Linked DNA regions of Homo sapiens. The protein of the gene in region 1 interacts with the protein of each later gene in a biochemical or structural test. Each region holds a gene or a part of one and is shown in the gene's direction. Other genes may lie near its edges.

The links.
Region 2: the proteins of GPC1 (region 1) and VEGFA form a complex in vitro, tested with the Homo sapiens proteins (one study listed by BioGRID).

The regions. Positions count from the first base shown.
Region 1 is NC_000002.12:240,462,859-240,466,664, forward strand, and holds part of GPC1 (glypican-1 precursor), read left to right. Parts: intron 1-488; coding exon 489-654; intron 655-1,757; coding exon 1,758-1,888; intron 1,889-1,997; coding exon 1,998-2,117; intron 2,118-2,218; coding exon 2,219-2,352; intron 2,353-2,614; coding exon 2,615-2,790; intron 2,791-3,199; coding exon 3,200-3,432; 3' UTR 3,433-3,806. UniProt on the Homo sapiens protein: Cell surface proteoglycan that bears heparan sulfate. Binds, via the heparan sulfate side chains, alpha-4 (V) collagen and participates in Schwann cell myelination.
Region 2 is NC_000006.12:43,780,057-43,783,750, forward strand, and holds part of VEGFA (vascular endothelial growth factor A, long form), read left to right. Parts: intron 1-675; coding exon 676-747; coding exon of another isoform or gene 748-798; intron 799-1,899; coding exon 1,900-2,031; intron 2,032-3,694.

The DNA.
Region 1 (3,806 bases):
GGGGCTGGACGCTGAGCCAGGCTGTGGAGTGAAAGTGCAGAGGAGACAGAAGAGAACAACATGCGTGGGGGCCGGGCAGGGTGGGGCCCCAGAGCCTCGCAGGCCAGGGGGATGCCTTGGTCCCTTGCGGGGCACGTGTCAGACCCAGCTAAGCTGGGACATAGGGAGGGCGTCAGCCTCAGACCCACATGCCCTGGGTGGGAACTGCCCCCACCTCCAGGCTCCTGGGCAAGTCATGCCTTGGTTTCCTCAGCGGCATGCGGGTGAGGATATTCTTGCCTCCCTGTGACCCTCGAGATCATTAAAATGAGGGCCGTCTGGGCTGGCAGGCCCTGCGAGTCAGGCAGCGACCACCACGAGCTGGGGCAGAGCAGAGGCCTCCCCTGACTTCCCTCCAGAGCCCCCTACCCTGGGGCTTCGTTAGGGGCTGGCCGGGGCCAGGCACCCCCAGGGCCTCGGGGCCTGGCTTAGGGTCCCTTGCTCCCCAGGTCCCCCTGGGCCCGGAGTGCTCGAGAGCTGTCATGAAGCTGGTCTACTGTGCTCACTGCCTGGGAGTCCCCGGCGCCAGGCCCTGCCCTGACTATTGCCGAAATGTGCTCAAGGGCTGCCTTGCCAACCAGGCCGACCTGGACGCCGAGTGGAGGAACCTCCTGGGTGAGCCCCCACCCGCGAGAGCGGCCTGGAACTGTCTTGGGGAGTGCACGACTGGGGGTCCTGGGGGGCGGGTGGTCCCTAGCTTAGAGCTTGGACCCAGGGACCTGATCAGGGATGCCCTGACCCGGGCCAGATCTGGGTGGTGCTGCAGGGTTGAGGGGCCAGGGTGCCTTTTGAATGTCCTGAGTGATGTGTGACTTGGGGCAGCTGCCAGGGAGGGAGCCCTGTGGGGTCATAGTTTCTTGTCCTTCCCCACTTAGCAAGCACCTCGGTGTGCATACATGCCAACACGTGTGACTCATCGAGGACCGGCACTTGTTTAAGCTAACACATACATGCACCGTCACATGACAGGCTGACACATGCGAACTGGCGTGCTCACTTGCTGACACACAGTGGGCCAGTGCCCACCAGTACAGCGTGTGCTCCTGGGCGCATGTGATGACATGAGCTGGGCTGACCCGCATCAATGCCAACACGTGTGTGGTAATATGTACATGCTTATCCAGATCCACTAACATGTACACATGCTTACATGAGGGGGGACAGCATGCATCTGTGCCAACACGTGCTAGCATGTGCTGACACGGGGCCAACAGGTGTGTGCTAACGTGATGGGAGCTGACAAAATGCATGAGCTTTACTTGTACATGTGCTCACCGTGCACGCAACACACACATGAACTAAGGTGTACATGGGGGGGGCATGAGGTAAGCCAGCATGCATACACACCAGCTCACACGGGCTCATGTGCACACAAGCTGGACCAAGGTGAGCCAGCGTATGTACATGTCAACACCTGCATGAGCCAGCGTGGACATACGAGACACGGCAGGCCAGCAAGCATGCAGAATGGCCTCTGTGTATGTGCGTGTTCACCTGTGCCCGTGGCACAGGTGCACACGTGGGTGTGGGCCAAGCTGAGTGCACGTGGCCTGCACATGTCACACGGGCCAACCTGAGTGCACACGTGGGATCTCCCATGCTGACCCGTGCTGTCAAGACTGCATTAACATGCACACGTGGTGACGCCTGCGTGTGCGTGTCAACGCCTGTGTGCGCGCGTTAACGCCTGTGTGTCCGCGTGTTAACGCCTGTCCTAGACTCCATGGTGCTCATCACCGACAAGTTCTGGGGTACATCGGGTGTGGAGAGTGTCATCGGCAGCGTGCACACGTGGCTGGCGGAGGCCATCAACGCCCTCCAGGACAACAGGGACACGCTCACGGCCAAGGTGCGGGCAGGAGGACGTGACGAGCACAGCGGGGTGGGGGTCCTGGATGTGGCCCCATTGGGCTTGAGGGGCCCCACTACCCCCCAAGGACCCTGCAGTGTCTCTCCAGGTCATCCAGGGCTGCGGGAACCCCAAGGTCAACCCCCAGGGCCCCGGGCCTGAGGAGAAGCGGCGCCGGGGCAAGCTGGCCCCGCGGGAGAGGCCACCTTCAGGCACGCTGGAGAAGCTGGTGAGTGGCCCCTGCGTGTCCACTGGACCAGGCATGAGGGAGGCAGACAGGCAGAGGCGGGCGGGCCCTGGCAGCCCAGTGGCCTGACTGCTGCCCCACAGGTCTCCGAAGCCAAGGCCCAGCTCCGCGACGTCCAGGACTTCTGGATCAGCCTCCCAGGGACACTGTGCAGTGAGAAGATGGCCCTGAGCACTGCCAGTGATGACCGCTGCTGGAACGGGATGGCCAGAGGCCGGTAGGTGCCCACCTGGCTGGCACAGCCCTCCCTCCCATGCCGCCTCCATTGGGCTGTGCCTGGGCCAGGTGCTGTCTGCACGGGGCCACGTCCCTTGCTGGAGGGCTTGAGCCCCACTTCTCTGCGGCCTGTGTGGGCTCTGCTCGGTCCCTGGAAGCTGCTGGGCATCTCAGGCTCAGAGCGTGGGAGAGTGTCCTGCTCAGGTGATGGCCCTTTGCAGGGGCTGGAGCAGTGACCTGGGCTCTGCCTGCCTTTCCCCCAGGTACCTCCCCGAGGTCATGGGTGACGGCCTGGCCAACCAGATCAACAACCCCGAGGTGGAGGTGGACATCACCAAGCCGGACATGACCATCCGGCAGCAGATCATGCAGCTGAAGATCATGACCAACCGGCTGCGCAGCGCCTACAACGGCAACGACGTGGACTTCCAGGACGCCAGTGAGGGCAGGGCCTGGCCGGGCGGCCAAGGGGCCAGGGTTGGTGGGGGTGCCACAGGGGTGTGACTGCCCTCCGGGTTCCCCCACCCGAGGGGCCCTCTGCTCCGGCATCACCACAGTGAGTCTGAGGACGCTGTGCTGCCCAGGCACGATCACCGAGCCCTGCACCTCTGCGGCGCCCTGGAGGCCTGGCCGGGATGTCTGTTGGCTTTGGCTCCAGGGACCAAGGGAGGCAGCCCCAGGGAGTGAGAGTCTCCCAGCCTCAGGGGTCAGCGGGGATCAGGTGCTGCTGGTCCTGGGATTCCACACCGAAAGGATGTTGGGGTCACCTGGCACGGGCCCTTACAGGGTGGTGCTGCACTGGGGTCTCCTGTGGGGACCTGCCTGCCGGAGCCTCCTCTCCTTCCCAGGTGACGACGGCAGCGGCTCGGGCAGCGGTGATGGCTGTCTGGATGACCTCTGCAGCCGGAAGGTCAGCAGGAAGAGCTCCAGCTCCCGGACGCCCTTGACCCATGCCCTCCCAGGCCTGTCAGAGCAGGAAGGACAGAAGACCTCGGCTGCCAGCTGCCCCCAGCCCCCGACCTTCCTCCTGCCCCTCCTCCTCTTCCTGGCCCTTACAGTAGCCAGGCCCCGGTGGCGGTAACTGCCCCAAGGCCCCAGGGACAGAGGCCAAGGACTGACTTTGCCAAAAATACAACACAGACGATATTTAATTCACCTCAGCCTGGAGAGGCCTGGGGTGGGACAGGGAGGGCCGGCGGCTCTGAGCAGGGGCAGGCGCAGAGGTCCCAGCCCCAGGCCTGGCCTCGCCTGCCTTTCTGCCTTTTAATTTTGTATGAGGTCCTCAGGTCAGCTGGGAGCCAGTGTGCCCAAAAGCCATGTATTTCAGGGACCTCAGGGGCACCTCCGGCTGCCTAGCCCTCCCCCCAGCTCCCTGCACCGCCGCAGAAGCAGCCCCTCGAGGCCTACAGAGGAGGCCTCAAAGCAACCCGCTGGAGCCCACAGCGAGCCTGTGCC
Region 2 (3,694 bases), on another chromosome or scaffold:
CTCCCACCCCATCCTGCTGCCTGCCCAGGGCTCCAGGACACCCAGCCCTGCCTCCCAGTCCAGGTCGTGCTGAGCAGGCTGGTGTTGCTCTTGGTTCCGTGCCAGCTCCCAAGGTAGCCGCTTCCCCCACACCGGGATTCCCAGAGGTTCTGTCGCAGTTGCAAATGAAGGCACAAGGCCTGATACACAGCCCTCCCTCCCACTCCTGCTCCCCATCCAGGCAGGTCTCTGACCTTCTCCCCAAAGTCTGGCCTACCTTTTATCACCCCCGGACCTTCAGGGTCAGACTTGGACAGGGCTGCTGGGCAAAGAGCCTTCCCTCAGGCTTTGCCCCCTGCCGGGGACTGGGAGCCACTGTGAGTGTGGAGACCTTTGGGTCCTGTGCCCTCCACCCAGTCTCGGCTTCCCACCAAAGCCTTGTCAGGGGCTGGGTTTGCCATCCCATGGTGGGCAGCGTGAGGAGAAGAAAGAGCCATCGAGTGCTTGCTGCCCAGACACGCCTGTGTGCGCCCGCGCATGCCTCCCCAGAGACCACCTGCCTCCTGACACTTCCTCCGGGAAGCGGCCCTGTGTGGCTTTGCTTTGGTCGTTCCCCCATCCCTGCCCACCTTACCACTTCTTTTACTCCCCCCACCGCCCCCGCTCTCTCTCTGTCTCTGTTTTTTTATTTTCCAGAAAATCAGTTCGAGGAAAGGGAAAGGGGCAAAAACGAAAGCGCAAGAAATCCCGGTATAAGTCCTGGAGCGTGTACGTTGGTGCCCGCTGCTGTCTAATGCCCTGGAGCCTCCCTGGCCCCCAGTACAACCTCCGCCTGCCATTCCCTGTAACCCTGCCTCCCTCCCCTGGTCCTTCCCTGGCTCTCATCCTCCTGGCCCGTGTCTCTCTCTCACTCTCTCACTCCACTAATTGGCACCAACGGGTAGATTTGGTGGTGGCATTGCTGGTCCAGGGTTGGGGTGAATGGGGGTGCCGACTTGGCCTGGAGGATTAAGGGAGGGGACCCTGGCTTGGCTGGGCACCGATTTTCTCTCACCCACTGGGCACTGGTGGCGGGCCCATGTTGGCACAGGTGCCTGCTCACCCAACTGGTTTCCATTGCTCTAGGCTTCTGCACTCGTCTGGAAGCTGAGGGTGGTGGGGAGGGCAGACATGGCCCAAGAAGGGCTGTGAATGACTGGAGGCAGCTTGCTGAATGACTCCTTGGCTGAAGGAGGAGCTTGGGTGGGATCAGACACCATGTGGCGGCCTCCCTTCATCTGGTGGAAGTGCCCTGGCTCCTCACGGAGGTGGGGCCTCTGGAGGGGAGCCCCCTATTCCGGCCCAACCCATGGCACCCACAGAGGCCTCCTTGCAGGGCAGCCTCTTCCTCTGGGTCGGAGGCTGTGGTGGGCCCTGCCCTGGGCCCTCTGGCCACCAGCGGCCTGGCCTGGGGACACCGCCTCCGGGCTTAGCCTCCCATCACACCCTACTTTAGCCCACCTTGGTGGAAGGGCCTGGACATGAGCCTTGCACGGGGAGAAGGTGGCCCCTGATTGCCATCCCCAGCAGGTGAAGAGTCAAGGCGTGCTCCGATGGGGGCAACAGCAGTTGGGTCCCTGTGGCCTGAGACTCACCCTTGTCTCCCAGAGACACAGCATTGCCCCTTATGGCAGCCTCTCCCTGCACTCTCTGCCCGTCTGTGCCCGCCTCTTCCTGCGGCAGGTGTCCTAGCCAGTGCTGCCTCTTTCCGCCGCTCTCTCTGTCTTTTGCTGTAGCGCTCGGATCCTTCCAGGGCCTGGGGGCTGACCGGCTGGGTGGGGGTGCAGCTGCGGACATGTTAGGGGGTGTTGCATGGTGATTTTTTTTCTCTCTCTCTGCTGATGCTCTAGCTTAGATGTCTTTCCTTTTGCCTTTTTGCAGTCCCTGTGGGCCTTGCTCAGAGCGGAGAAAGCATTTGTTTGTACAAGATCCGCAGACGTGTAAATGTTCCTGCAAAAACACAGACTCGCGTTGCAAGGCGAGGCAGCTTGAGTTAAACGAACGTACTTGCAGGTTGGTTCCCAGAGGGCAAGCAAGTCAGAGAGGGGCATCACACAGAGATGGGGAGAGAGAGAGAGAAAGAGAGTGAGCGAGCGAGCGAGCGGGAGAGCGCCTGAGAGGGGCCAGCTGCTTGCTCAGTTTCTAGCTGCCTGCCTGGTGACTGCTGCCTTCTCTGCTTTTAAGGCCCCTGTGGTGGGCTGCAGGCACTGGTCCAGCCTGGCGGGGCCTGTTCCGAGGTTGCCCTGGTTGCCTGAGTGGTAGGCTGGTGTGGCTTAGTGTAGTGGTGTGGACGCAAGCTGTGTGTTGTGTCCTGTGGTCCTTCTGCTCATAGTGGCTGTTGGTCCTGATGTTATTACTACCTCTGGTAGTAATGCTGAGAAGCTGAAAGCCGATTCCAGGTGTGGACAATGTCAACAAAGCACAGATGCTCTCGCTGGGGCCTTGCCTCGGCCCTTTGAAGTCTGCATGGCTGGGCTTCTCACTCACTCAGTGTTTCTTGCTGGGGGAAGGAATTGAGTCTCCCACTTCAGACTGGGCCTCCCTGAGGAAAGGGTTGTGTCTCCCCACTCAGACTGAGGTTCCCTGAGGGTAGGGCTGTGTCTCTCCCCTCCGACCTGGGCTCCCTGATAGGGCTGTCTCCCCGCTCAGACTGAGGCTCCCTCAGGCCAGGGCTATGTCTCCCTCCTCAGACTGGGGCTCTGAGGGCAAGGGGTCTGGCTGTTCGTTTAGGATGGGGCACTTTTGCCTACACACTGAAGGAGCTGTAGCATCCAAGAATACTAGATACCTTTAATCCTCCACCAGTCATGGTGACAACCCCAAGCAGCCCACACATTTTCAAGTGCCCCCAGGATGCGTGGAGGGAGGGGTCTGTGCCCATTCTCCTGACATTAGCCTGTGAGCTCCGTAAGCCCGGGCCTCGTTTACGTACCTTTGTGAGCCCCGGGCATCTGTACCTCTTTCCTTTGCCCATACTGGGGACCAAGGAAGTGTCAAGTGCATGAGTGAATGTGTGACTCAGTTCAGAGGGTGAGGTCAGGAGCACAGGGTCGGGACAGGTGGCTGGCATCTTTTAATGCCTTAGCTTATGTTCTTTATACCAACTTGGCCTGTGCTCAGAGTGAGGGAGGCCCTGGGGGTCAGGGTAAGCGTCAGTCAGGGAGGCAAGACTTTGTGGGGATTTCCTAGACAGGGCCAAGGCACCCCCAGCTCACCCCGAGGCTGTGTTAGGGAAGTCCTTGGAGTGTCTCCCCTCCCCCAGCAATGTTCTTGTGGCTTGTGTGTGCTCAGGGGATGCTGGGAACCAGGCCTGGGTAGTTGGTGTGGGGTGCTGTCTGTCTTGGCCCTATGTGAAACCAAGAGGGCGTATATTAGTGCTGGGGTGGGGGCTCTGCCTAACTTCAGGGCTGGATGAGGGGAGTCTCAGTTCCCCAGGGGTCCTTGGGAAAGATAAGGGACTTGACATTTTAGGGTTTTTAGGTGATTATTCTGCTGATGGGGGTTTGTGTGAAGTGACCTGGGAGCTAACTGAAGTTACTCTAACCTCCCAATACCTTTACCCAACCCCCAAGCTGGCTGTATCTGGGAATATCAGTTTCCAAAATTGGAGGCTTAGGACTCCGTTTCGGGGCTCCCCAGAAGGGTAGGGCCTGTTCTGCCTCCTTCTCACAATCAC